Regions from separate parts of the Homo sapiens genome. Here all the other regions are linked to region 1. Evidence: fine-mapped expression QTL. A gene starts in region 1. Each other region holds a variant in brackets. All regions are shown on one strand. Distances are between the middles of the regions. Region 1 holds the start of FBXO42 (F-box protein 42). Region 2 has its middle 6.0 kb from the start of CPLANE2. Region 3 overlaps FBXO42 (F-box protein 42). Region 4 overlaps FBXO42 (F-box protein 42). Region 5 overlaps FBXO42 (F-box protein 42).

The links. PIP is the estimated chance that this variant, and not a neighbour inherited with it, causes the effect.
Region 2: its variant is the best candidate, but not a certain one, in a credible set for the expression of FBXO42 in whole blood (TOPMed, PIP 0.53).
Region 3: its variant is the best candidate, but not a certain one, in a credible set for the expression of FBXO42 in whole blood (INTERVAL, PIP 0.61).
Region 4: its variant is the best candidate, but not a certain one, in a credible set for the expression of FBXO42 in lung (TOPMed, PIP 0.71).
Region 5: its variant is the best candidate, but not a certain one, in a credible set for the expression of FBXO42 in whole blood (INTERVAL, PIP 0.84).

What each region holds. Positions count from the first base shown.
Region 1 is chr1:16,349,820-16,354,924 of GRCh38, reverse strand. It overlaps FBXO42 (F-box protein 42), which reads left to right and starts at 2,445. Exons shown (of 10, transcript NM_018994.3): 1 at 2,445-2,670. RefSeq lists an enhancer at 2,406-3,180.
Region 2 is chr1:16,240,598-16,245,702 of GRCh38, reverse strand. It overlaps the pseudogene MT1XP1. Among named protein-coding and RNA genes, the nearest start is that of CPLANE2, 6.0 kb to the right of the region's middle. The variant C/G (reference allele first, on the strand shown) is at 3,180.
Region 3 is chr1:16,287,642-16,292,746 of GRCh38, reverse strand. The region is part of intron 4 of FBXO42 (F-box protein 42); the gene reads left to right. Among named protein-coding and RNA genes, the nearest start is that of CPLANE2, 53 kb to the right of the region's middle. The variant TG/G (reference allele first, on the strand shown) is at 2,065.
Region 4 is chr1:16,264,433-16,269,537 of GRCh38, reverse strand. All of the region lies in intron 4 of FBXO42 (F-box protein 42), which reads left to right. Among named protein-coding and RNA genes, the nearest start is that of CPLANE2, 30 kb to the right of the region's middle. The variant G/A (reference allele first, on the strand shown) is at 2,629.
Region 5 is chr1:16,299,936-16,305,040 of GRCh38, reverse strand. All of the region lies in intron 3 of FBXO42 (F-box protein 42), which reads left to right. Among named protein-coding and RNA genes, the nearest start is that of FBXO42, 50 kb to the left of the region's middle. The variant C/T (reference allele first, on the strand shown) is at 3,156.

The DNA of each region.
Region 1 (5,105 bases):
GTATGCACCACCGCCTCTGGCTCATACAGCTCTCTATGGGTAAGGGTGACCCAAGTCTGCTCAAAGAGGCCTTGCCCTCCAACTTGAGGGGAACTTGGCTTCTGGCCCAGCCCTATGCCCCATGAGATTTCCTAGGAGGAAACTTTGTAAAATATTTGAAGAGATTTATTCTAAGCCAAATATGAGTGACCATGGCCCATGACACAGCCCTTGGGAGATCCTGAGAACATGTGCCCAAGGTGGTTGGGAAGCAGCTTGGTTTTATACATTTTAGAGAGACATGAGACATCAATCAAATACATTTAAGATATATTAATACAGGGCCAGGTGCAGGGGCGTATGCCTGTAATCCCAGCACTTTGGGAGGCCGAGGCGGGTGGATCAACTGAGGCAAGAGTTCGAGACCAGCCTGGCCAACATGGTGAAACCCCGTCTTTACTAAAAATACAAAAATTAGCTGGGTGTGGTGGCACATGTCTGTAATCCCAGCTACTCAGGAGGTTGAGGCACGAGAATCGTTTGGACCTGGGAGGCAGAGGTTGCAGTGAGTGGAGATCACACCACTGCACTCCAGCCTGGGCGAAGAGTGAGACCCTGTCTCAATAAATACATAAAAAGGCCAGGCGCCGTGGCTCACACCTGTAATCCCAGAACTTTGGAAGGCCGAGGTGAGTGGATCACGAGTTCAGGAGTTTGAGACCAGCCTGTCCAAGATGGTGAAACCCCGTATTTTCTACTGAATTTTGTATTTTCTACTGAAAATACAAAAATTAGCTGGGCACGGTGGCGGGCGCCTGTAATCCCAGCTACTCGGGAGGCTGAGGCAGGAGAATCGGTTGAACCCAGGAGGCGGAAGTTGCAGTGAGCGGAGATGGTGCCACTGCACTCTAGTCTGGGCGACAGAGCAAGACTCAGTCTCAAAAAAATAAACAAATAAATAAAAATAAGTAAATAAATAAATAAAAACTACATTGGTTCGGTGCAGAAAGACCGGAAACTTGAAGTGGGGGCTTCCACATTATAGGCAGATTTAAACATTTTCTGATTGGCAATGAGTTGAAATAGTTATTATCAATAGGCCTGGTGCGGTGGCACACGCCTGTAATCCAAGCATTTTGGGAGGCCGAGGCAAGTGGATTACTTGAGCTCAGGAGTTTGAGATGAGAGTGGACAACATGGCGAAACCCTGTGTCTACAAAAAAAATGGAAAAATTAGCCAGGCATGGTGGTGCCCGCCTGTAGTCCCAGTTACTCAGGAGGCTAAGGTAGGAGGATAGCTTGAGCCTGAAAGACAGAGGTTGCAGCGAACCAAGAACTCATCACTGGACTCCAGCCTGGGCAACAGAGTTAGACCCTGTCTCAAAAAAAAAAAAGTTATTATCAATAGAAATGAATGTCTGGGTTATGATAAGGGATTGTGGACACCAAAGTTTTATCACGCACGTGAAGCCTCCAAGTGGCAGGTGGGCTCCAGAGAGAACAGATTGTAAATGTTTCTTACCAGTCTTAAGGTCTGTTGTGTTGATGTCAATGCTGAAGGATGTAATGAGGCATGTCTCATGTCCTGCTTCCCGTCATGGCCTGAACCAGTCTCTCAGGTTGGTTACATTTTAGACTGCCCTGGCCTAGGAGGAAGTCCGTTCAGATGGTTTGGTGTTGGGGGGGGGGTGGGGGCTTAGTTTTTTGTTTTGTTTTGTTTTGTTTTTTTGGCTTACAGAGTTTAGACTGAAGCCTTTGACTCTGTATCTGGCATTTCCTTAGACCACATGCTGTAGGGCTGGGCTCATGAAGGTTCTCACCTACACACCAGGTTGCTCCCTTGAGAAGGGGGACTTTGCTGGATCCTATAACCTAGCTAGTAGGAAGTAAAGGAGCTTGGGAACCAGACAAGCCTGAGTTTAAATCCTCTTTCCCGCGCCGCCCCACCTCCACTGATAGGTGTGTGACTCCGGGCAAATAAGTGATCGTTTTCTGTGCCTCAGTTTCCTCATCTGAAAAGTGGAGCTAGTAAGAACTCACAGTGGTTGCTACGAGGCTACGGTTAAGGGAAGACTTCTCCTGCACACCTCAAGCACAGTTTCCCTCCCCTTGGCGATATCCAAGAGCACTCACATCCGCCACAGCCCTCTCTGCTCATCGGGCCCTCGGGGTAGAAGTGAGTTAATTCCTGGCTAAATGTTAGTCTCAAACCACCGGGAAAACCACCCAGTTGCCCCAGACAGTGCAGCGGAGGGTGGGTGCGGCTATCAGGTCGACGCTAGAGACGCGGCGAAGGCGGGTGCGGAGGCCTAGCTCCCCCGAGCGCATTCCACCCTCCACAGAACCTCGGCCTGTGACCACGGCCTTTCTCAACACTGCGCCGCCCCCTGGCCGCCCCTCGCCATCCCGCCGCGCTGACGTGAGTGCGCGCGCGTCCGCCGCGCCCGCCCCGGCGCATGCGCGCTCTGCGCTGTCTTCTCCCGGCCTGAGCAGCAGCAGCTGCGGCGGCGGCGGCGTTTGAGTGGAGGAAGATGGCGGCTCCGGGCGGCTCGGGGTCCCGCCAGCTGTGAGGAGCCCCGAGCACGGCTGTCGCGGCCTGAGGCAGAGCGCCTCTGCTCTGGCCCTGTCCCTGGCTCCCTCATTACCGTCGCCAGCGGAGCGAACCCGAGAGCGTGGAGCGGGCTGGGCCAGGTGAGGCCTCTCCTCCTCCCCGGGCCGCAGAGGGGAGCCGGCGCCTTCTGCCCTTTATGCCCGGGACTGGCAAGGGGCAGCGGGCGCCCGGGGTCTGACGCAGGCCCCGTATCCCACGCGGGGGTCGGTCCTGGTTGGGCAGGGTGACTTGCTATCGCCGTCCTCGAGTGAGGCGAGGAGGAGGACAGCTCCTTTCCAGCCAGCCCTTGGGTTGGGAGCGAACCCACCCCCTCTCCTCAGCAGGGTGGTTCTCGTCCCCTCACCCGGGCAGTGAAGGGGTGTGTGGCCCGGGCAAGGATGGCTTTAGGGTGTCAGGTAATCTTTCATCGCTCCTCCGAACATTTCACTCCTTTGCGAGAGAGGAGTCGGGGGTCGGGTGCCCATCAAAATTGGGGCTGCGGCTGGGGGCTAGCATCTCTGAACCTGCAGCTGCAAAGGGATAATTTTGGAATTGGTTTACGTTAAATAAAACACAAAAGGCCTTTCCTATCCCCTAGCTTGTTGAGTGTTCCCTTAGAGAAATGGGAACTGCGGATCTCCTTGCTTGAGACAGCAATCCATGCTGTGACTGTGGAAGGCTTCTCTTGGCGAGAATTGTGTGTGCAAAGGGAACGGTGGAGGGTGGGAACGAATTTGTAAGCGAAGAGAAAACGATTGTGAGATCTTGATGGTCGCTGCAGAGTAACTTCAGCGCTGAGTTCGTTTGAAACCTTCGGTTTGTTAAGATTCAGAATAACCAATTGCTTTGTCTGTTAAATCTCCCGATTTCTGTTAGGAAAATAAAAGCCTCATTTCTTAATTGCCAGAGTCTGGATTTTTCTGTGGTGGGATTCTGATCGATCTAGATGAAGATTCTGACACATTACCAGTTTTACTTGCTGGCAGTTGCTGGCCCCGACGTTGAAACTATGTTGTTCCTTTTTGAGAACAACTTTTATTGCTGTTTAAATGCTAATTGGGAGACTTCGATTGTGTTTCTGTCATGTAGGGAAGTCGGTTTGAAGCCTTGTGGTCTCTTTCTTGAGGAATGATGGCTTCACTGAACTTGTGCTATGCAGAATTGTTGAGGCGATTGCTTTTGCTTGGACACACCAAAATATCTTTTGTAACAAATTGGCTTTACTTCTGCTTAAGAATGATGACATCATGGATTTAAAGAGGCAAGGAAAATTTGGGGGAAGTACCATCATTTAGAATTGAATATTTAGAATTAAGTCTGTATATCTTATGGCCATTAGTGATGCTGTGTTAAATTGCTAACTTTGAGTGTATTCACGTGTGTAATCTGATTGGGTGTCTTTTCTATTGTATGTTGTCATTTTATACCCAGTAACTGTTTGCTTTTGACAAGCCAGTATAAATAGATGATTCAATCTACATTGATCCATAGGCATGTTGCGTATCTTAAAAAGCTTTTCATTGTTAAAATGACAACTGTTTAGGTTATTATTTGACCATTTTCTTTCTTTCTTTCTTTCTTTCTTTCTTTCTTTCTTTTTTTTTTTTTTTTTGCAGTTTCTCACTCTGTCATCCAGGCTGGAGTGCAGTAGCACAGTCTCGGCTCTCTGCAATCTCCATCCCCTGGGTTTAAGCGATTCTCCTGCCTCAGCTTCCTGAGTAGCTGGGATTACAGGTGTGCGCCACCACGCCCGCTAATTTTTTTTTTTTTTTTTTTTTTTTTGTAATTTTAGTAGAGACGGGGTTTCACCGATGTTGCCCAGGCTGATCTCAAACTCCTGGTCTCAAGCGATACCCTGCCCCACCCCAGGCTTGAGCCACCGTGCCCAGCCTCCTTTTCTATTTTTAAATCAAAGACTTTTCCATAGAAATTTGTCGATTTTCTTAGTGTCTTTGCTAAAGATGTAAATCTGAACCAGCAGCTTCTCTGTGGTAGAAAATTGGAGAGCTACTTTGCATATCAATTTGCTAATAAAGAGTCATGAAATTAATGCAGTAAAACATCCTGGTGGCTCATCATTATGCTTCTTGGCATAATATGTTGCACTGTTATGCTAAATCATCATCAGGTATTGATGCAACTTCATGACATCCATGACATCATTTGCTCTCCAGATTTTGACCTTTGCAATTCCTTACCTTAGTTACAAAAAGAACAGGATCAGAAAAAAAATAGCTTAGGATGCTTCTTCTTGTCTGATTTCTAGAGGGGTCTTTAATAACAGCTTTATGTGGTTTAAACCCTGAGTAAGATTCAGAGCAGGGTGAGTCCTACCTATTATGGAGAGCAAGCAAAGAAAATGCTAACAAAACGTCTGAGTTTTATGAGAACACTGAGGTCCCAGGGAGAAGCTATCTCAAAGATGAACAAATACGTAATTATCTTTGTGATTTCAGAATTGTTTTAGTCAATGAATTAACTCTTTTTGTTTGTTTTTTGAGACATAGTTTTGCTCTTGTTTCCCAGGCTGGAGTGC
Region 2 (5,105 bases), 110 kb after region 1:
TAAGTTGGCAGCTACTGCCTTCCACTGCAGGGCCAGCACAGCACTCCCCAGCCAGGGTTCTTGCTTTTCTGGATACTAAAGGGTCAGTGGGCTGGGCATGGTGGCTCACGCCCGTAATCCCAATACTTTGGGAGCCCAAGGCAGGTGGATCCCTTGAGGTCAGGAGTTCAAGACCAGCCTGACCAACATGGCAAAACCCCTTCTCTACTACAGATACAAAAATTAGCCAGGCATGGTGGTGCACGCCTGTAATCCTAGCTACTCAGGAGGCTGAGGCAGGAGAATCACTTGAACCCAGGTGGAGGCTGCATTGAGCCAAGATTGCACCACTGCACTCCAGCCTGGGCAACAAAGCGAGACTCCATCTCCCAACAAATAAATAAAGGGCCAGAGGCCTATGCACATTCGGGTGTAAATTGAAAATCTGCCTGGGGAAGGGGAGACAGTGCAGGAATCAGCACCTCAGCCCAAGGTTTTGCCTTCATTACTCCTCCCGTGAGGCCTGAGAAAGGTTCCTAGAAGTGGTAGGCTTTGAGCACCCCCACGTCCAGGCAGGAGAGGAAGCATCCACCAAAATTTTGCCCGTGAAAATCCTGCAGGCTGGCCTCTGCGTGGTGCTGCCGCACATGACTGGGTCTTAGTGCTCTGTGCCTTTTCACCTCCCCCAGGCCAAGGAGAGACTCCCAGCTAAGTTCCACCTTCTGGTCTCAGTGGCTTTACTACTTCTCTTCCCACAAACACTGCCAGCATGTCAGTGGATGCTGTGTGAGGTGATGATTTGCCCACGGCTGGAAGTGTTCAAACAGGGTCTGACCACCTGCATGGGAGGAAATAACAGAGATGCATCAGATCAAGATTGGAACCAAGGAAACGCTTGATGCCATTTCAATTTTTTGAGACGTAGTTCTGTGGACTCAGAAGGGACTTAGAGGCAGTAGGACAGGGCAGACCTAGGTTCAGGAGCTGACTGTCACTTTGAGCTGGAGCAAGTCATCCTGCCTCACTGAGCCTCAATTTTATCAGTAAAATGGCAATGATGGCAGCCAGCCTCACAGGTTAGCAACTTAGCTGGAACCAGCCAAGAATCGTTTAATCCATTGGATGGGTGTGATTCCCCAAAAGGCCACCTGAGGGCACCCTGTGAAAGGCTTCAAGTGTGCTTGGGCGATCTGTCGGAGGCAGTCTTGAGAAAGAAAGCAGATGGGCAGGAGTAAGAAAATGCTTGCCTGTTTCTCCCCTCCCTCTGTCAGTTAAGCCTGGGGGGCACCCGTCCCTGGCCCCTGCCTTGTTTCAAGTACCATCCTCCAGCTGGCCTACCTGCCTTTCCTTCCCCAGCCCTCAGCTGTGGGAAAATTACCATCTTTCTCATGGGGCTGGGCTCTGGGTCCAGAGCCTGTCGGAATGCACAAAGCCAAGCCCATGTCTTAAGTAAATGCCAAAAAGTCCTAGCAGAGTGTGTTCTGCACCCACCAGGGAGCCTGTCTGCCCACCTACTGCAAGGAAGAGAAGGAGGGCTCCTTTCCAGCAGAAGCCTGGGGAGAGGGAGGATGCTCCTGCCCGAGGACATGGGCTGTGGCCCGTTGACAAGGCCTAGAACACCTGGAACTGACTGGGAGACTATTCACTCTCAGCAAGCATTCCCTGAGCATCTGTGACCCCCGAGGCACTGGGACACACACAAGACACAAAAGAGGCCCACCCATGAAGGAGCTTACAGCCTAATCACAAACCAGGGAGGTGTCACATGGGCTAAACAAAAATGACAAATCCTGAGATTCTAAGGTCAAAAGACAATCCAGGTATCATACTAAAAAGATACCAAAGAGGATGGAGTCAGTAGAACCATCTGCAACCAGTGCAGCCACCCAGGGCTGGGACAGTTGTTCGGGAAGCCAGAAGCCAAGAAGTTAGCCTTCTCTTTGCTTTGGTGTCTTAGTTCCCTTGTGCTGCTATATACCATACCACAGACTGAGTGATTTATAAGCAACAGAAATGTATTTCCCACATTTCTGGAGGCTTAGAAGTCCAAGCTCAAGGCACCATCAAGCTTGGTGTCTGGTGAGGGCCCAGTCTCCACTTCCAAGACATTGCCTTGTTGCTGCTCCATCGTGAAGGCTGTGTCTTCACACCGTGGATGGGATGAACTGGCCCCTCACGCCTTTCCATAACATCACTAATCCCATCGTGAGGGCTCTGCCCTCATGACTTAGTCATTCCCTGAAGGCCCCACCTGTTAATACTGTCACAGTGGTGATTAAACTTCAACATGTGAATCTGGCAGGACGTTCAGATCATGGCACTTGGCCTCGTCCTGCTAACCTGTGGCAGGGGGGCAGATGAGGATAGAACCTATCTGGGGCATCCCAGATGGGTGGGGTCTAGGCCTCGCTTCTGGCAGTCAGTAATGCAGGGTCTTGATAAGCCTATAAGCCGCAGCAGCCAGTGGTCAGGGCTGAGGACAATGGAGGGTGACCCATGTGGACTTGATGGCCAGAGGTCATCCCCTCAGATGTAATGGGAAAGGAGCTCCCGAGTGGAATCCGTAGTGGGAAGACAACACTTAGGACCGCATGGCTGGGGCCACGGCAGAGGCACAGAGCAGAGTGCTCTCTGCAGCAGAAGGCCCACAAGAGATGGCGTCCAAGGAGTAGCATCGCTCCCCAGCCATGCTTCCCTGGGATTTGGGCAAGCCTCCCTGCACACCAAACATGAGCCTCAGGGCGGGCTGGAGGAGGGGGTTTCCGGTTCTTCTGCCTCTCCTGGGTCTGACCTCGTCGTTGTCATTGCCCAGGTGGCATCCAAGGCTCTGCTGTCTGTCCACAGCATCCGGACCTCTCATCTGTCTACACCCATTGCTTCAGGCTTGGTCCCTCCGCCGTCAGTAATGTCCAGCTTCACTCAGGCCGCTCACCTGCGCTTTACATTCCAACATCTGCTGTGAGTGTGTCCTCTCTGGGCAGCCCCCCACCCTCCCTCACTCCCCAGGGGCTCCTCCTCTGACCCTGTGCGCTTCCTCCATGCTTCCCCCACAGTTAGGGGCACCACCATCCATCCAGTCACCTGGGAATGATCCCAGGGTCAGGTGATCTGAGGATGGAGAATTGACCACTGAGCTTGGTGGCGAGGCTGGTGCCCTTGACCTGACTTGATTAACTGGCTGTGGCTCCAGCTTGGAGAAT[C/G]CCTAAAGCCAGTGAGCCTGGTGGAAGGACTGCTAGGAGGCAGAGCAAGCATTCCAGGTGGGAGTGGAGCACTCCTGGTGCCAGGCCATGCTGAGGGAGGGGTGGGTGTTATTCTAGGAGCCAAGAGGATTTTAAGCCTGGTGTCCTAGCTGACCTCCCGCCCCACACCTACCCAGGATCCTCAGGCAGGGCTCTCCATGCCTCATTCTCACCCCAGCTCGGCCTGTGTGTCTGCCCACCTGGGCCTCCCATCCACTCTGTCAAGTTGGTGACTGTGTCCCTGCCTTGTGGAGTCCTCTCAAGGTCTTGTGGGGACCTTGTCCAAGAGGTTTTTAATAAATATTTGTGGGGAGACCAAACCAAGAAGAAATGAGTGGATTAATCACAGGGCTCTAGGCCGGGCACAGTGGCTCATGCCTGTAATCCCAGCACTTTGGGAGGCCGAGGCGGGCAGATCACGAGGTCAGGAGATTGAGACCGTCCTGGCCAACATGGTGAAACCTTGTCTCTACTAAAAATACAAAAATTAGCTAGGCGTGGTGGCATGCGCCTGTAGTCCCAGCTACTTGGGAGGCTGAGGCAGGAGACCTGCTTGAACCTGGGAGGTGGAAGTTGCGGTGAGCCAAGATCATGCCACTGCACTCCAGCCTGGCGACAGAGCAAGGCTCTGTCTCAAAAAAAAAAAAAAAAAAAATCAGAGGGCTCTAGACTAGAAGAGTCCTTAGGGAGATGTTCTACATGTTTTGCTTGAGGCCCTGAAAGGAGAAGCAGCTGGCTTAGGGGGACACATAGTTTAGTGGTCAGAGGGGCACAGGAGAGCAGAACTCATAGACCAACACGGTCCACAAGCGTCCTTCTGAAACGCAGTTCTAACCATGTCACTTTCAGGTCCCAACAGTCAGCTGGCCTCCTTTGCCCAGCAGCAGTGTTTACATGAGGTCTGTGGACCCTGTTATGGACTGAATTATGCCCTGCTCCACCCAAATCCATACATTGAAGCCCTAGCCCCCAATGTGACCATATTTGGAAATAGGTCCTTTAAAGAGGTAATTAAGGCACGCTTTTCATCTGTCCCGCTGAGTGTTTGCCTCTTGATCAGGAACTCCTGCTTCTCCCTGCCTCTAAATGGACCCCAACTGCTCCTGCTCGCCTGATGGTTCCTGCGCCTGTGCCGGCTCCTGCAAATGAAAAGAGTGCACATGCACCTCCTGCAAGAAGAGCTGCTGCTCCTGCTGCCCTGTGGGCTGTGCCAAGTGTGCCCAGGGCTGCATCTGCAAAGGGACGTCGGACAACTGCAGCTGCTGTGCCTGATGCCAGGACAGCCCTGCTCTCAGATGTAAATAGAGCAACCTTATAAACCTGGATTTTTTTGGTACAACCCTGACCCATTTGCTACATCTTTTTTTCTATGAAATATGTGAATGGCAATAAATTCATCTAGACTAAAAAAAAAAAAAAAAAAAAAGGTAATGAAGGGTGAGCATGGTGACTGATGACTGTAATCCCAGCACTTTCAGAGGCCAAGGCAGGCAGATCACTTGAGGCCAGGAGTTTGAGACAAGCCTGGGCAACAAGGCAAAACCGTACCTCTAAAAAAATACAAAAGAAAAAGTCCGGGCATGGTGGCTAATGCCTGTAATCCCAGCACTTTGGGAGGCCAAGGCGGGCGGATCACCCGAGGTCAGGAGTTCAAGACCAGCCTGGCCAACATGGTAGAACCCCGTCTCTACTAAAAATACAAAAATTAGCTGGGTGTGGTGGCAGGCGCCTGTAATCCCAGCTACTTGGGAGGCTGAGGCAGGAGAATCACTTGAACCTGGGAGATGGAGGTTGCAGTGAGCAAAGATCGCGCCATTGCACTCCAGCCTGGGGCACAAGAGCGAGACTTTGTCTCAAACAAACAAACAAAAATACAAAAAAAAAAAA
Region 3 (5,105 bases), 62 kb after region 1:
TAATTTAGCATGGGTGGTGCTCTTTCTTGTTAAAATGGAGCTCTGGTTTGGGGACCTTCATAGCCTCTGCCAACTACTGTGCTTATTTCTCCCTGTAATATGGAGTAAGACTTTTTTTTTTTAAACCATCAAGTTTAAAGACTGCTTTGTGGCTAGGCGAAGTGGCTCACGCCTATAACCCCAGCACTTTAGGAGGCCAAGGCAGAAGGATCCCTTGAGGCCAGGAGTTTGAGACTCACCTGGGCAACATGGTGAGACCCCCATCTCTACAAAAAATAAAAACAAAAAATTAGCCAGGCATGGTGGCATGCCTCCATAGTCCCAGATACTTGGGAGGGTGAGACAGGAGGATTGCTTGAGCCCACAGATATAAGCCCAGACGCCTAGGCGAGAGTGAGACTGTGTCTCAAAAAAAGAAACAAAGAAAGAGAAAGAGAGGAAGGGAAGAAAAGAGGAAGGCAGGAAGGGAGGGAGGGAAGCCAAAGAAAAGGTTATGCTTTGAAATTCCCAAAGTAGAAATATTGGAGAAATAACTGCTTCAATCATTTACATTCTCTATGGAATATGAATTTTTAAAAATAGAGCATTTGGAATATTCCCTTTGACAAAACATACAAACTCCTGAATGTTTAAAGTAATTTTCTAACAAAATGTCTCAAAGAATCTAGTTACTCCCTCATCCTAATCTGCAATTAGAGGCTAGTTTTAGAAGGAGGAAAACCTGAGCTTTTTGAAATGTCTACTTATAAAAAACAATTGTTTAATAAAGAGTCCTGGCTGGGCACAGTGGCTCACTCCTCTAATCCCAGCACTTTAGGAGGCTGAGACAGGAGGATCTCTTGAGGCCAGGAATTTGAGACCAGCCTGGGTAACATAGTGAGACCCTGTCTCTACAAAACAATTAAAAATGAGCCGGGCATGATGGCATGTGCCTGTAGTCCTAGCTACTTGAGAGGTTGAGGTGGGAGGATTGCTTGAGCCCAGGAGTTCAAGGCTACAGTGAGTGATGATTGCTCCACTGCACTCTAGCCTGAGTGAAAGAGGGAGACCCTGTCTCAAAAAATAGCCTGGGCTTGGTGGCTCTCGCTTACAATCCTGGCACTTCGAGAGGCTGAGGTGAGAGGATCACTTGAGGCCAGGAGTTCCAGACGAGCCTGGCCAACATAGCGAAACCCCATCTCTACTAAAAAGACAAAAAATTAGCAGGGCATGGTGGCATGTGCCTGTAACCTCAGCTACTCAGGAGGTTGAAGCATGAGAATCACTTGAGCCCAGGAGGCAGAGGTTGCAGTGAGCCAAGATTGCGCCACAGCACCCCAGCCTGGGTGGCGGAGTGAGACTGTCTCAAAATAAAATAATAAATTAAAAAAAAAAAAGTCCCATGAGATTCTCATTTAGGCAGAAACCCCATGTAAGATGCCCTAAGACAATGTTTCTGTATGCTATCATGAGTCCTAATCAAAATCACTTCCTAACTGAAATGTCAATTAGTCCTTCTGAATAAAACATAGTTGTTTATAAGTCTTGGTGTACCTGACTCACTCATTTTAGTGCATCGAGGTAGGTAGATTGGAGGGTGACTGAGGGGAGGGCACTGTCAGTTGTGAGGTTGTCTTCTAACAGAGTATGTACAGGAAGGTAATAGTTGCTTTAACAGTGTTCAGACTTCAAAAGTGTAGCTGTTGGAGAAGTAAGAGCATCAAGCAAGGAGTGGAACACTTTTGGTTGGGAGTGGAGAGTCTTGATAGAGAATACTGCTGCATCAGATGTCTTTTTACATGTGTATTTGGTTATGTGGTTATGAGATTAGAGCATTCTCCTATTGGTTGGTGTCTTAGTCAGCTCAGGGTGCCATACAAAATACCATAGACTGGGTAGCTTAAACAGCAGAAATGTATTTCTCACAGTTCTAGAGGCTGGAAATTCAAGATGAGAATCTGGCATCGTTGGCTTCTAGTGAGGATTCTCTTCCCAGCTCCTGGTTTGCAGACTGCCACCTTCTCAGTGTGTTTTCATGTAGCAGAGAGTGAGCTCTGGCATCTCTTGTGCTTCTTTTTTTTTTTT[TG/G]TCACTCTGTCACCCAGGTTGGAGTGCAGTGGTGCGATCTTGGTTCACTGCAACCTCTGCCTCCTGGGTTGGAGCAATTCTCCTGCCTCAGCCTCCCGAGTAGCTGGAATTATAGGTGTGTGCCACCATGCCTGGCTAATTTTTGTATTTTTAGTAGAGACGGAGTTTCACCATGTTGGCCAGGCTGGTCTTGAACTCCTGACCTCAGGTGATCCACCCACCTCAGCCTCCCAGAGTGCTGAGATTACAGGCATGAGCCACTGTGCCCAGCTTCTTGTGCTTCTTATAAGGGGATTCATCTTATGAGGGCTACCCTCATGACCTCATCTAAACCTCATTGTCTTCCAAAGGCTTCATCTCCACCATAGCATCACCTTGGCGTTAGGGCTTCACCATATGGATTTGGTGGAGGACACAATTCCATCTATACCAGTTGGAATTAATGTAATTTCCCAGTGAAATCTTGTCTTTAGTTCCTTTCAAAATGATAGAAGTGCTCCATCTGGAGGAAGAGTGGTATTGGAGGTAGAGTGGTGACGAGTGTTGGGATGACAGATCTTACACTAAAAGAGACCCACAGCTAGTACTTCTCAGACATTTCCAACAAGGTAACACCTCCTCCCATTTACACCTGCTTTTGTGGCCCCTGCCCTCATGGAGCTTATATTGTAACGGGAAAGAAACAAGAAGCAAGTAAGCAAATTGTTATAAATTATGAAGGAAACAAACGGAATGAAGTATAGAATAAGGGGAGAGCTCCTTTTTTTGAGACAAGGTCTTACTCTGTCATCCAGGCTGGAGTGCAATGGCACAGTCACAGCTCCCTGTAGCCTCGACCTCCTGCCTTAGCCTCCTGAGTAGCTGCGAATACAAACGTGCACCACCATGCCTGGCTAATTTTTGTATTGTTTTGTAGAGATGGGGTCTCACTATGTTGCCCATGCTGTTAGGGGAGACCTACTTTAAACAGGAGACTTTTTGTTTGTTTGTTTTTGTTGTTGTTGTTTGTTTGTTTTTGGCTGAGACCTAAAGAATGATAGTGGAGGGAAGTGAGAATGGCATGTGCCTGGTGCAGCAAAGAAAAGGACATGTTAGAGGAGCTTAAAGCAGACCTTTGTGGATGTAGCCTAAGGAGCAGGGGAGAGAGTGGCACAGGGGGAGTTGAGATAAAGACAGGAGCAAGCTTATTCACAGACTAAGGTGGGGACTCAGAAACCTTTGAGATTTTAATGAGAGGAATGTCATCATCTGGATTACTTTTTTTTTTTTTTTTAAAGAGACAATCTTGCTCCCTTGCCAAAGCTGGAGTGCAGTGGCACAATCATAATTAATTGACTATAGCCTCAAACCCCTGGGTTCAAGTGATCCTCCCACCTCGGCCTCCTGCATAGCTGGAGCCACAGGTTTGCACCCCCACATCGGGACATTTTCTTTTCTTTCTTTTTTTTTTGTAGAACTAGGGTGTCACTATGTTGCCTGGGCTGGTCTTCAACTCCTAGCCTCAAATGATCCTCCTGCCTTGGCCTCCCAAAGTGCTGGATTACAGGCATGAGCCACTGCCCTTCCCTGCCTCAATTTACATTTTAGAGCACATTTTGCTTCTATTTAGGAAATGAAGGAAGGCAAGAAAGTAAACCAGACTAGACAGAAGGCCATCAATATTGACAAGACTCAGATGAGCATATATCAGTAAGAAACTGACAAAACTTTTTTTTTTTTTTTTTGAGACATAGTCTCACTCTATCACCCAGGCTGGAGTATGATGGTGCAATCTCAGCTCACTACAGCCTCTGCCTCCCGGGTTCAAGCAATTCTTGTGTTTCAGCCTCCCAGGCAGCTGGGATTACAGCAGTGTGCCACCACACCAGGCTAATTTTTGTATATTTAGTAGAGGTGGAGTTTCACCATACTGCCCAGGCTGGTCTGGAACCCTTGACCTCAAGTGATCCGCCCACCTTGGCCTCCCAAAGTGCTGGGATTACAGGCATGAGCCACTGCGCCCGGCCAAGACTTCTTAATGAATTAGATTTAGGAGCATGAGAAGGCCAATCAAGGGTGACTTATGTTTCAGGTTTATACAGCTACGTTGATGGTGGGGCCATTTGCTGAAGTGGAAAATAAATATTTGGGAGAGGTTAGTTTTTGGTTCCTATTAAATGTTTAAGTAGTAGTATCTAGTAATTCATTGTTATGAGAGTTTGACATTTGTTTATTATTATTATTATTATTTTTATTTTTATTTTTATTTTTTTTGAGATGGAGTCTCGCTCTGTCACCAGGCTGGAGTGCAGTGGTGCGATCTGGGCTCATTGCAACCTCCACCTCCCGGGTTCAAGTGATTCTTCTGCCTCAGCCTCCCCAGTAGCTGGGGTTACAGGCATGTGCCACCATGCCCAGCTAATTTTTGTATTTTTGGTAGAGATGGGGTTTCACCATGTTGGCCAGAATGGTCTCGATCTCTTGACCTCGTGATCCGTCTGCCTCGGCCTCCTGGGATTACACGCTTGAGCCACTGCACCCGGCCTATTATTATTGTTTGTTTGAGACAGAGTTTCACTCTTGTTTCCCAGGCTGGAGTGCAATGGCATGATCTCGGCTCACTCCATCTCCTGGGTTCAAGTGGTTCTCCTGCTTCAGCCTCCCAAGTAGCTGAGATTACAGGCGCCCACCACCACACCCAGCTAATTTTTTGTATTTTTAGTAGAGACAGGGTTTCATCACGTTGGCCAGGCTATTTTTAATAGAGACAGGGTTTCATCACGTTGTATTTTTAGTAGAGACAGGGTTTCATCACCTGAGGTTAATCCTGACCTCAGGCGATCCACCCGCCCCGGCTTCCCAAAGTGCTGGGATTACAGGCATGAGCCACTGTGCCTGGCCGAGAGTTTGACACTGAAAACAAAGGGCCTGACTTCCCTTAAATGACAGCACAGGCCAGGCACAGTGGCTCACACCTGTAATCCTAGCACTTCAGGAGGCTGAGTGGGAGGATGGCTTGAGGCCAGGCCACTCTGAGGCCAGGATGGCTTGAGTTCAAGAC
Region 4 (5,105 bases), 85 kb after region 1:
AACAAAAAATTATGAGTAGCCAGATGTGGTGGCACATGTATAATTTCAGCTACTCAGGAAGCTGAGGCACGAGAATGGCTTGAACTGAGATAGTGCCACTGCACTCCGGCCTGGGGAACAGAGTGATACTCTCTTAAAAAAAAAAAAAAGTCTGGGTTCGGTGGTTTATACCTGTAATCCCAGCACTTTGGGAGGCCGAGGCAGGCAGATCACCCACGGTCAAGAGTTTGAGACCAGCCTGGCCAGCATGACAAAACCTCATCTCTACTAAAAATATAGAAAATTAGGCGGGTATGATATCATGTGCCTGTAGTCCCAGCTACTTAGGAGGCTGAGGCAGGAGAATCGCTTGAACCCAGGAGCTGAAATTGCACCACTGCACTCCAGTCTGGGTGACAGAGACAGAGACTCTGTCACAAAAAAAAAAAAAGCCAGGTGCGGTGGCTCACGCCTGTAATCCCAGTACTTTGGAAGGCCGAGGTGGGTGGATCACGAGGTCAGGAGTTCGAGACCAGCCTGGCCAACATGGTGAAACACTCCCATCTCTGCTAAAATACAAAAATTAACTGGGTGTGGTGATGCGTGTCTGTAGTCCCAGCTACTCGGGAGGCTGAGACCGGAGAATCCCGGGTTCAAGTAATTCTCCTGTCTCAGCCTCCCGAGTAGCTGGGATTACAGGCATGTGCCACCACACCCAGCTCATTTTGTTTTTTTGTTCGTTTGTTTGTTCGTTTTTAGTAGAGACGGGGTTTCTCCATGTTGGTCAGGCTGATCTTGAACTCTCGACCTCAGGTCATCTGCCTGCCTCGACCTCCCAAAGTGCTGGGATTACAGGCGTGAGCTGCTGTGCCCGGCCTCTTTGTTCTTATTAAAGTGATGTGCTTTTGATTAAGAAGGAGTTAAGATGTTATTTAAGGGAATATTTTAAGTTATTATATTAGCTCCTCCCTGACCCATGGACCTATTCCTGGTTAACCTTCTTCATGAGGTGGTGGTTCTTCCTTGTTTCCTGTAGCCCTTTGCAGTCCTGTAACAACCTGGACCTGTGATGGTCTCAGGACATGTGAATGAAAGCAGAGCCAGTAGGTTCCCTTAGAAAAGGAAGAAATCCTTCTTGTTTATTTAGAAAGTTCAGACCCTGGGATTTTTCCAGAATACATGCTTTTCTAAGGTGTATACACATTACCTCCTGCTAAAGAGAAGAGTGGGAAAATTTGTATAGGACAGATCTGGGTAACTTTTAGTCCTCCCAGGGAGAGAATAAGTAAGATTTTACCATATTTCAGTTTGGCTCACTCTCAGGGCTGACAAGGATTTTTCTGTTTTGACACCAGGCTAGAAACTTTATGACTGGTAACATTGTTTTCACTTCTTAAAGTCCCTACTTGAAAGAGTACCCCCTATGCCCCCCACCCCCATTAGAACTGCAATTAACAAATTATCAGATTAAACTGAGACTTTGGACCTCCTCTCCTCCCTCAGAAATTGAATCAAAAGACTACTTGAAATGGTAACAAGGAACTATTACTGGCTTTTGTATTGTTCATTTTTAGCTGATAAGTGCTGCCCTATTCATCAAGTGGTCTTTCATATGGTTTTGTTAAGAAGTGAAAACAATGCCAATAGAGAATTTCCTTTAGTTCATGCCTGTGGCATAGTTAGATAAGATCTAAAAGTTTCTCATGCCCATTACAAAAGTTCCTGTTATTTGGATATTTCATAAATGACCCATAGAATGATGTTTTTAAAGATGTGGATATAGTTGTAATAATAATGTATACCCTGAATCCTGAGATCCAGACAAGTTTTGTCTAATACCAGTGAATGTTGATGTCAATCAGTAACTTTTCTGGCCTTTTTACAATTGAGGAGTAAAATAGGAAGAAAAAAATGGAGTGGGTAGAGGGGGAGACCCAAAAAAATGTTTGGCTTTAACCCCACCCAAAGGTGGGCTGATGCCTCTAGGGTATGTTATAAGTAGCTGGAGCCGACCCTGATCTCAGCTCCTGAGAGATCTATAACCATTTGGCTTCCGTGGATGGCTTCAATTCAACAAACATTTTCATAAGAAATAGTCCCTGTCTTCTAGGATAGTGTAGTCTTACTGGGGAGAATCTAAATGGATAATTTCAACACCCCTGATTAGAACTGCAATTAAAGAGCACTCCTGGGTAGAACCAAGTCTTAGGAAGCAGGAGTTTAGAGGTTCTGTAACTTTGTATTTACTTCCTATTTCTTTCTTTAAAGCATTATGTACTTGTATCTTCATGGGCATTTATATAAATGCAATGACTTGTAATTATTATTGGCCACATTGATGTTAAGTTGGAAATATTTTTATTACCAGAAGAGAAACTAGTATCTGTTCCAGATAGAAACCCCTTGGTCCTTGGGCTGCAGTATTTTGGAGACCATTCCAAATAGTTGTCTTCAAGGTGTTTATGGTCAAGACAGACTTTATACTCATGAATTTTGAAGTGTTTTTCTCAATTATCCTTTTATCCCTACCTCCTCACACCACAGAACCATGAAACATGCTTTTGTTGTTGCCCTTACGAAGTATTGCCTGTAAAATCAAAATAGTTTTGAGTAAGCAGTTAAATTATAACACCAGCAGTTTTTCTTTAA[G/A]GAATCTGTTTCCTTCAAAGTTATATGTGCCACGCTATCCTCCAGTGCCCTCTAGGTTTTCTGATTATGATGGTAATATGGTATTCTGGGAAATATCTGTCCAAATTATCCTGATCTCTGAACTCCTGCTGTTGAGGTCAGTCACTTCACACAATACCATGATGACAGCTTTATCAAGCCAGATGCTTAGTCAGAGCTTTCCAAGACCCAGCTTTGGTTTTATCAGCAAAATCCATCCTTCCCACCCCCCATACACACGCCAGTTTGAGGCTCCTCACTACCACAAAACAAAACAAAAAACAGCATCTGTGGGGTAGGGTTTTAGTTAACTGGTCTATCTGGCATTACTTTGCCCTCAAGGCCAGTTTTGTGTGTGAAGGACTGGTATACTGCCTGTGGAGCTGGAGTTGGAAGTGAATGCTTTATATTGGACCCACTCTGAGAAAGCGAGTCTGCACAGAGTGGTTAAGATGGGGAGACTTAACCTATCTTAAGGCAGGAGGTTAAGCCATCCTCCCGCCTCAGTCTCCTGAGTAGCTGGGGACTACAGGTACATGCCACTGTGCCTAGCTGTTAGCAAACTTATTTTAGCATGGCTCTTTTCCTCAAATTCTCCTTTGAATTAGCATTACTTCCTGCTTGCTCCCTTATTAATAAGTTAAATATATCCTAACACATGTTTACTCTATATATGTATGAAAGAGATGTTTCTATTTTTTTTAAAAAAAACTATACTTTGAAAACAGCCATGAAAATAGCCATTTTCCGTGGGGTAGAAAGGGTTCTGACTTTTTCTTTCAAAAGTTCTATCTTGTTTGATTATTTTATTTGAAAGTGTTTTAAAGCACTTTCATTTTCTTAAGGAAATAAAAATAAATAAGTCAGTTTCTCCCCAAAAGTCTGAAGTGTGTAAGACTAGAGTAACAGTTCTATTTGTTGAGAATGTAAGTGATATTGAGAAAATGGTAGGATTATATACCTGCTTCTCATCTTGTGACATTTGGCTATTATTGCCTAAGACACCTGTACTCAGAGCCAACTGTGTAGTATGCAGATCAGGGACCAAAAGGCTTTGTGAGCCATATAGAGCTCCTTTAGGAGGCCTTGAAATGTCTTTTTTTTTTTTTTTAATAGGGACTTATCTGAACCTAAACTTCCAAGGACAAGGGATTAACTCTTCTTTCATTAAATAACCCTTTAGGTTGGATTTCTTGATTACTCAGAACATGGAATTTGCCTTTTTTTTTTTCTTTTTTAGTTTTCAAGAGGTACCTAGAACAGTGTCTAGCTCAGTGTAAGCATTATGCATTAGCTTCACCTACCATTATTCATCTGTAAAATGAGGCTAGTAATACCTGCATTTTAAGGTTATAATGATTAAATTAGATAATAAATATAAAATTTGTAGCACTCAGTAGTTAGCACATAATAGGCCATCAAACAGTATTATTTATAACTCCTTAACAATAAACTAATACTAAAAAATGATAATAGCATGGAGATATAAAAATATTTTTTAGGCCGGGCACGGTAGCTCATGCCTGTAATCCCAGCACTTTGGGGGGCCAAGACGGGAGGACCACCTGAGGTTGGGAGTTCGAGACCAGCCTGACCAACATGGAGAAACCCCATCTTTACTAAAAATACAAAATTAGCCACTTGGTGGTGCATGCCTGTAATCCCAGCTACTCGGGAGGCTGAGGCAGGAGAATCCGTTGAAACTGGGAGGCAGAGGCTGCGGTGAGCCGAGATTGCGCCATTTCACTCCAGCCTGGGCAACAAGAGCGAAACTCCGTCTCAAAAAATATATACATACATTTTTAAATCGTGCATAAAATACAGGCATCCCCAATTAAAACAGGTGATTGTTTTATCTTGTTATCAAATAGTTGAGCTGCTCTATGTAGTCCTGGGTTCTGTGTAAATAGACACTACAATTGTGGGAAAGTGGCATAGAAATCAAACTAGGATTTGGAACTGCTTCACTGTTTAACCAGCTTCTTTGCAAACGTAAACAAGAATGCCGTGTAATTATACCACCATCATATGTGAAATTTTATTCTGATTTCATAGGAACCTTGGGAAACAGCTGAACCTATTAGCAGTTTTAGGGAATGTTAGTTCTGTTGTATAGGGTGTCTATCTGATTATTCAGTTTGCCACAGCTGCCTTTTGGGCTTGTGCCTTGTTTTGAAATTTGTTCCATTGATCATATCTGCTGTGCGATTTAGGAGGCCTTTGATGTGTTTGGGGAATGAAGCCCATGAGGGTGACTCCTGGCTCTAGGGGAAGAGGGCTCTAGGGGAAGAGGCTCAAGTAACATGTTCATCTACGCTTGATGTGGGCACATTTGGTCCTGTCGTGCTTGATGGGAACTCAATGGGAATGACACCCTTCCTTTCTTCACTTTTGTGCAGTAATGGCACTTAGACTGAATTTAGAAGCCCAGTGGCTTTGTTATTTTGAAGGCAGGCCAG
Region 5 (5,105 bases), 50 kb after region 1:
ATTAGGGAAAAGTGTCAGCCTAAATATATTGTAGGCAGTTTGTTAAGAATTTTATATTCTGCTTTTTCTTTTTTTTGAGACAGAGTCTCTGTTGCCCAGGGTGGATTGCAGTGGTGCAATCTTGGCTCACCGCAACCTCCACCTCTTGGGTTCAAATGATTCTCCTGCCTCAGCCTCCTGAGTAGCTGGGACTACTGGTGTGTGCCACCACACCTGGCTAATTTTTGTATTTTTAGTAGAGATAGGGTTTCGCCATGTTGGCCAGGCTGGTCTCGAACTCCTGACCTCAGGTGATCCACCCACCTCGGCCTCCCAAAGTGCTGGGATTACAGGTGTGAGCCACCGCGCCCAGCCCTCTGCTTTTTCATTGGATTTTTCTCTACTCCAGAGTGGTCAAGGTGTTATGCTTAGCGTTTTAAACATCTGACATTATCTAAGAGGAAAACAAAGGAAAGCTGTACATGAGGGTATTTCTAAGATTTTGCTTAGGGAGTAGTCAGATTTTAGTACTAGGTCATATAATGGCTATTTAACATAATACATGTTCAGCAAACACAAAATTTAAATGGACTCCTACAAAAATTTTGAATGTGACAAGTGTCGATTATAAAATTCAAATTTGGGCTGGGTTCAGTGGCTCACGCTTGTAATCCCAGCACTTTGGGAGGCTGAAGTTGGCTGATCACCTGAGGTCAGGAGTTTGAGACCAGCCTGGCCAACATGGTGAAACCCTGTCCACTAAAAATAGAAAAAAAAATTAACCAGCCATGGTGGCACATGCCAGTAATCCCAGCTATTTGGGAGGCTGAGACAGGAGAACTGCTTGAACCTGGGAGGCGGAGGTTGCAGTGAGCCGAGATTGCACCATTGCACTCCAGCCTGGGCAACAAGAGTGAAACTCCATCTCAGAAAAAAAAAAAAAAAAAATACAAATTTGGCTGGGTGCTGTGGCTCACGCCTCTAATCCCAGCACTTTGGGAGGCCAAGGCGGGCGGATCACCTGAGGTCAGGAGTTTGAGAACAGCATAGCCAACATGGTACAACCCCGTCTCTGCTAAAAATATGAACAATTCCATCTTGGCTAACACGGTGAAACCCCGTCTCTTAAAAAAATATATATATAAAAAATTACCCGGGCATGGTGGCGGGCGCCTGTAGTCGCAGCTACTGGGGAGGCTGAAGCAGGAGAATGGCGTGAATCCAGGGGGTGGAGCTGGCAGTGAGCCGAGATCACGCCACTGCACTCTAGCCTCGGTGACAGAGTGAGACTCCGTCTCAAAAATAAATAAAATAAAAATATAAACAATTAGCCAGGTATGGTGGCAGGCACCTGTAATCCCAGCTACTCAGGAGGCTGAGGCAGGAGAATCACTTGAACCCGGGAGGCGGAGGTTGCAGTGAGTCGAGATCATGCCACTGTACTCCAGCCTAGGCAACAAGAGCGAAACTCTGTCTCAAAAAAAAAAAAAAAATTATCTTCTTGCCTTTCTTCTCTCTTCATGTGAACCTGGACTAAAGACCATTAATAACCACCTCTAAAACTGGGGACAGTATCTCCTCCTCCTCTGACATTCGGAAATCTGTAAGAAATCTGTAAAGTCATTGCTTACTGTCATCACTGAAAAGCAGTATAAACATGAAGTAGGCAAGGGGCAGGGATGTGCAGCATCCTGCAGTGCATAGGACAGTCCTACAGATAAAAAGATTATCCTGCCCCAAATGATAAGAGCTCCTGTTGGGAAATACTGCAAGTCTGAAACATGCAACTAGCCTTGCATTCTTCCGTCAGCAAGCTTCAGCGTTAGTGTGCTGCATGTAGGAGTTTTCATTCTGCCTGCCTTTCAAGGACCTGGCTTGCCTTTTCAGCCTGACTCACTGCTGCATCCTTAGGTAGCCAGACTTCAGCCACATGAACCTCCTTGTTATGTCTTAAACTTCCTTATTTGCCCTTCCCTTTTTTTCTTTTTTGAATTAGTTTTTGAAATTTTTAATTGTGTTTTGCCATGTTGTCCAGACTGGTCTCGAACCCCTGAGCTCAAGCAGTGTGCCCGCCAGATATGGTTTGGCTCTGTGTCCCCACCCAAATCTCATCTCCTCCAGTGGTAATCCCCATGTGTCAAGGGAGTGACCTGGTGGGAGGAGACTGGATCATGGGGGCGGTTTCCTCCATGCTGTTCTTGTTATAGTGAAAGAATTTTCATGAGATCTGATGGTTTAAAAGTGGCGGTTTCGGCTGGCCGCAGTGGCTTACGCCTGTAATCCCAGCACTTTGGGAGGCTGAGGAGGGCGGATCACTTGAGGTCAGGAGTTTGAAACCAGCCTGGCCAACATGGTGAAACCCCGTCTCTACTAAAAATACAAAAATTAGCCGGGCCTGGTGGCGGGTGCCTATAGTCCCAGCTACTTGGGAGGCTGAGGCAGGAGAGTTGCTTGAACCCCTGTGGTGCAGGTTGCAGTGAGCTGAGATTGCACCACTGCACTACAGCCTGGGCAACAGAGCGAGACTCCGTTTCAAAAAAGAAAAAAAGGTGGCAGTTTCCCCTGTGCTCTTTCTCCTGCTGCTTTGTAAGAAGTTGCTTGATTCTCCTTTGCCTTCTACCATAAATGTAAGTTTCCTGAGGCCTCTCCAGCCATGTGGAACTGTGAGTCAGTTAAACCTCTTTCCTTTATAAATTACCCAGTCTTGGATAGTTCTTTATAGCAGTGTGAAAATGGACTAATACACTACCTCAGTCTTGCTAAGTGCCTAGATTACAGGCGTTGAGCTACCGCACCCGGCCTGCCCTTCTTAATGGACTGAAAGTGTCCTGTTCTCTAAAAGTCATCTCAAAGATAAAATCAAAAGCCACATTTTTTACCAACTTCTCTCAGATTCCTCGCCGTAGATATTAAGCTCTTTTCTTCCTCTCTGCTTCCCTAATATACTATTCATACCTTCCTCCATTATTTATTACCATCTGTCTTTTGCCATTATTATCTGTGTGAGAGAGGCTGCATGCTAAAAAGGAAAGGCCTTTGGATGTGGGAAGCAAGTTTCTTGGCTTGTCTGACCCACAGTTTCTTTGTCTGAAAAATGGATATGACAAATTCTGTTTGTGCCATAGATTGCTGAGAAATGCATTTAAGAAAACACTTGTAAAAATATGTTTTAAAGT[C/T]GAGGCAGGAGAATGACTTGAGCCCAGGTGTTTGAGACCAATTTGGGCAACATCTCTATTTAAAATTAAAATATATGTATATATTTTAAGCTGTAAAAAAGTAGGATGATGATGATGTCTCCCCCACAAGATTGTCGTCTACTTGAAGATAGACAGGCTCCATGTCTTAGACATTCTTGTACCGTTTCTTTTTTTTTTGTTGTTTTTTTTTTTTTGAGATGGGGTCTCACTCTGTCACCCAAGCACCCAGGCTGGAGTGCAGTGGCGCGGTCTTGGCTCACTGCAGCCTCTGCCTCCCAGATTTAAGCTATTCTCTTGCCTCAGCCTCCCAAGTAGCTGGGATTACAGGTGCCTGCCACCACGCGCAGCTAATTTTTGTAGTTTTAGTAGAGACGGGGTTTCGCCCTATTGCCCAGTCTGGTCTCAAACTCCTGGGCTCAAGAAATCTGCCCATCTCAGCCTCCCAAAGTGCTGGGATTGCAGGTGTGAGCCACCGCACCCAGCCTTCTTGTACTGTTTCACAACACCTTGTTCATAGTTGATATCTAATAAATTTGGTATCAATATATTTTGATACCTAATAATTTTTGTGGACTTAAGTGCAACAAAGGTATGCACAGTATAGTATCTTTCCTATGGAAAAGTCTGGGACAAAAAAGTCAGGTGAAGTAAAAAGGCCAATTCTAGGGCCAGGTGCAGAGGCTCACCCCTGTAATCCCAACACTTTGGGAGGCCAAGGCAGGTGGATCACTTCAGGCCAGGAGTTGGAGACCAGCCTGGCCAACATCGTGAAACCCTATCTCCACTAAACATACAAAAATTAGCTGGGCGTGGTGGGCGCACGCCTGTAATCCAGCTACTCGGGAGGCTGAGGCAGGAGAATCGCTTGAACCTGGGAGGCAGAGGTTGCAGTGAGCCAAGATTATGCCACTGCACTCTAGCCTGGGTGACAGAACAACACTCTGTCTCAAAAAAAAAAAAAAAAAAAAAAAGGCCAATTCTAGCTTTTTGGTGAATGTGTGCATAGCTAATCATGCAAGCTTTAATTAATGTAGAATGTCCTTTTCAGATTGATGTAGGGGGTCTCCTGAGTCCCCAACATCATGCATTGAAAAATGTTTCAGTGTTGTAGGTGTCACATATAGTCAGGTAGTTTCATACACAATGCTCATCATGCTCCTGCAGGAGCCAGCAGGCCCAGACTGGATAACCGCCCTTGCTTCTTCATAGTTACGTAATTAGAGACCTTATCAAATATGTTCTGGCTTGTAGGTGTGAGACACATGACAGCATAGTCTCTTTAAGCATGGGATAAATGCCTCAGGATCTTTCCCTGGAGACAGGTGAAGAAACAAAAGAGAATTTGACGTCTGAAAATGCAAAAGCATATCATTCATTTAGTGAGCATTTATTGAATGCTCCATACACCATGGAAAAGATGAAACTACTGGAAGATCTTGCACTTGAGATGATTATAGAATAGTGGAGAAGTATTCAGAACTGTGAAGAACTGTTTGCTTGCTCTGTGTGTAATTAAATTGTGACTATTTGACTTGTATTTTAATAGGGATGATTAGTATGTGTCGTAAACTAAGCCCATTTCAGAAAACTTGAAGAGATTTACCAGTTGGAATAGACACTCTCAGTATTATTTGTTAGCCCAGTATTCATACTGTACTGTGAGCTGTAACTGTATAGCACATTCTAGTGGTCTAGATGTTCTGAAAGGAAAATTTTCTATTTAGGTTGAGAACTTGTGAAAAGGGAAATTACTACTGGAGCACTGGGAGTTGCTCAAATTCTTTTTCCTAAAAGGTTCATTTGAACTTGTTGGGTCTTCCTCCCTGCCCCTGCCCCTCTCAGATCAATCTATAGGTGTCTTAAATAAAAAATAGGCAATAAGTAAAGTTCAGTAGGCTAGGGTGCTTAAAATAGTTGAGTGTGGCCGGG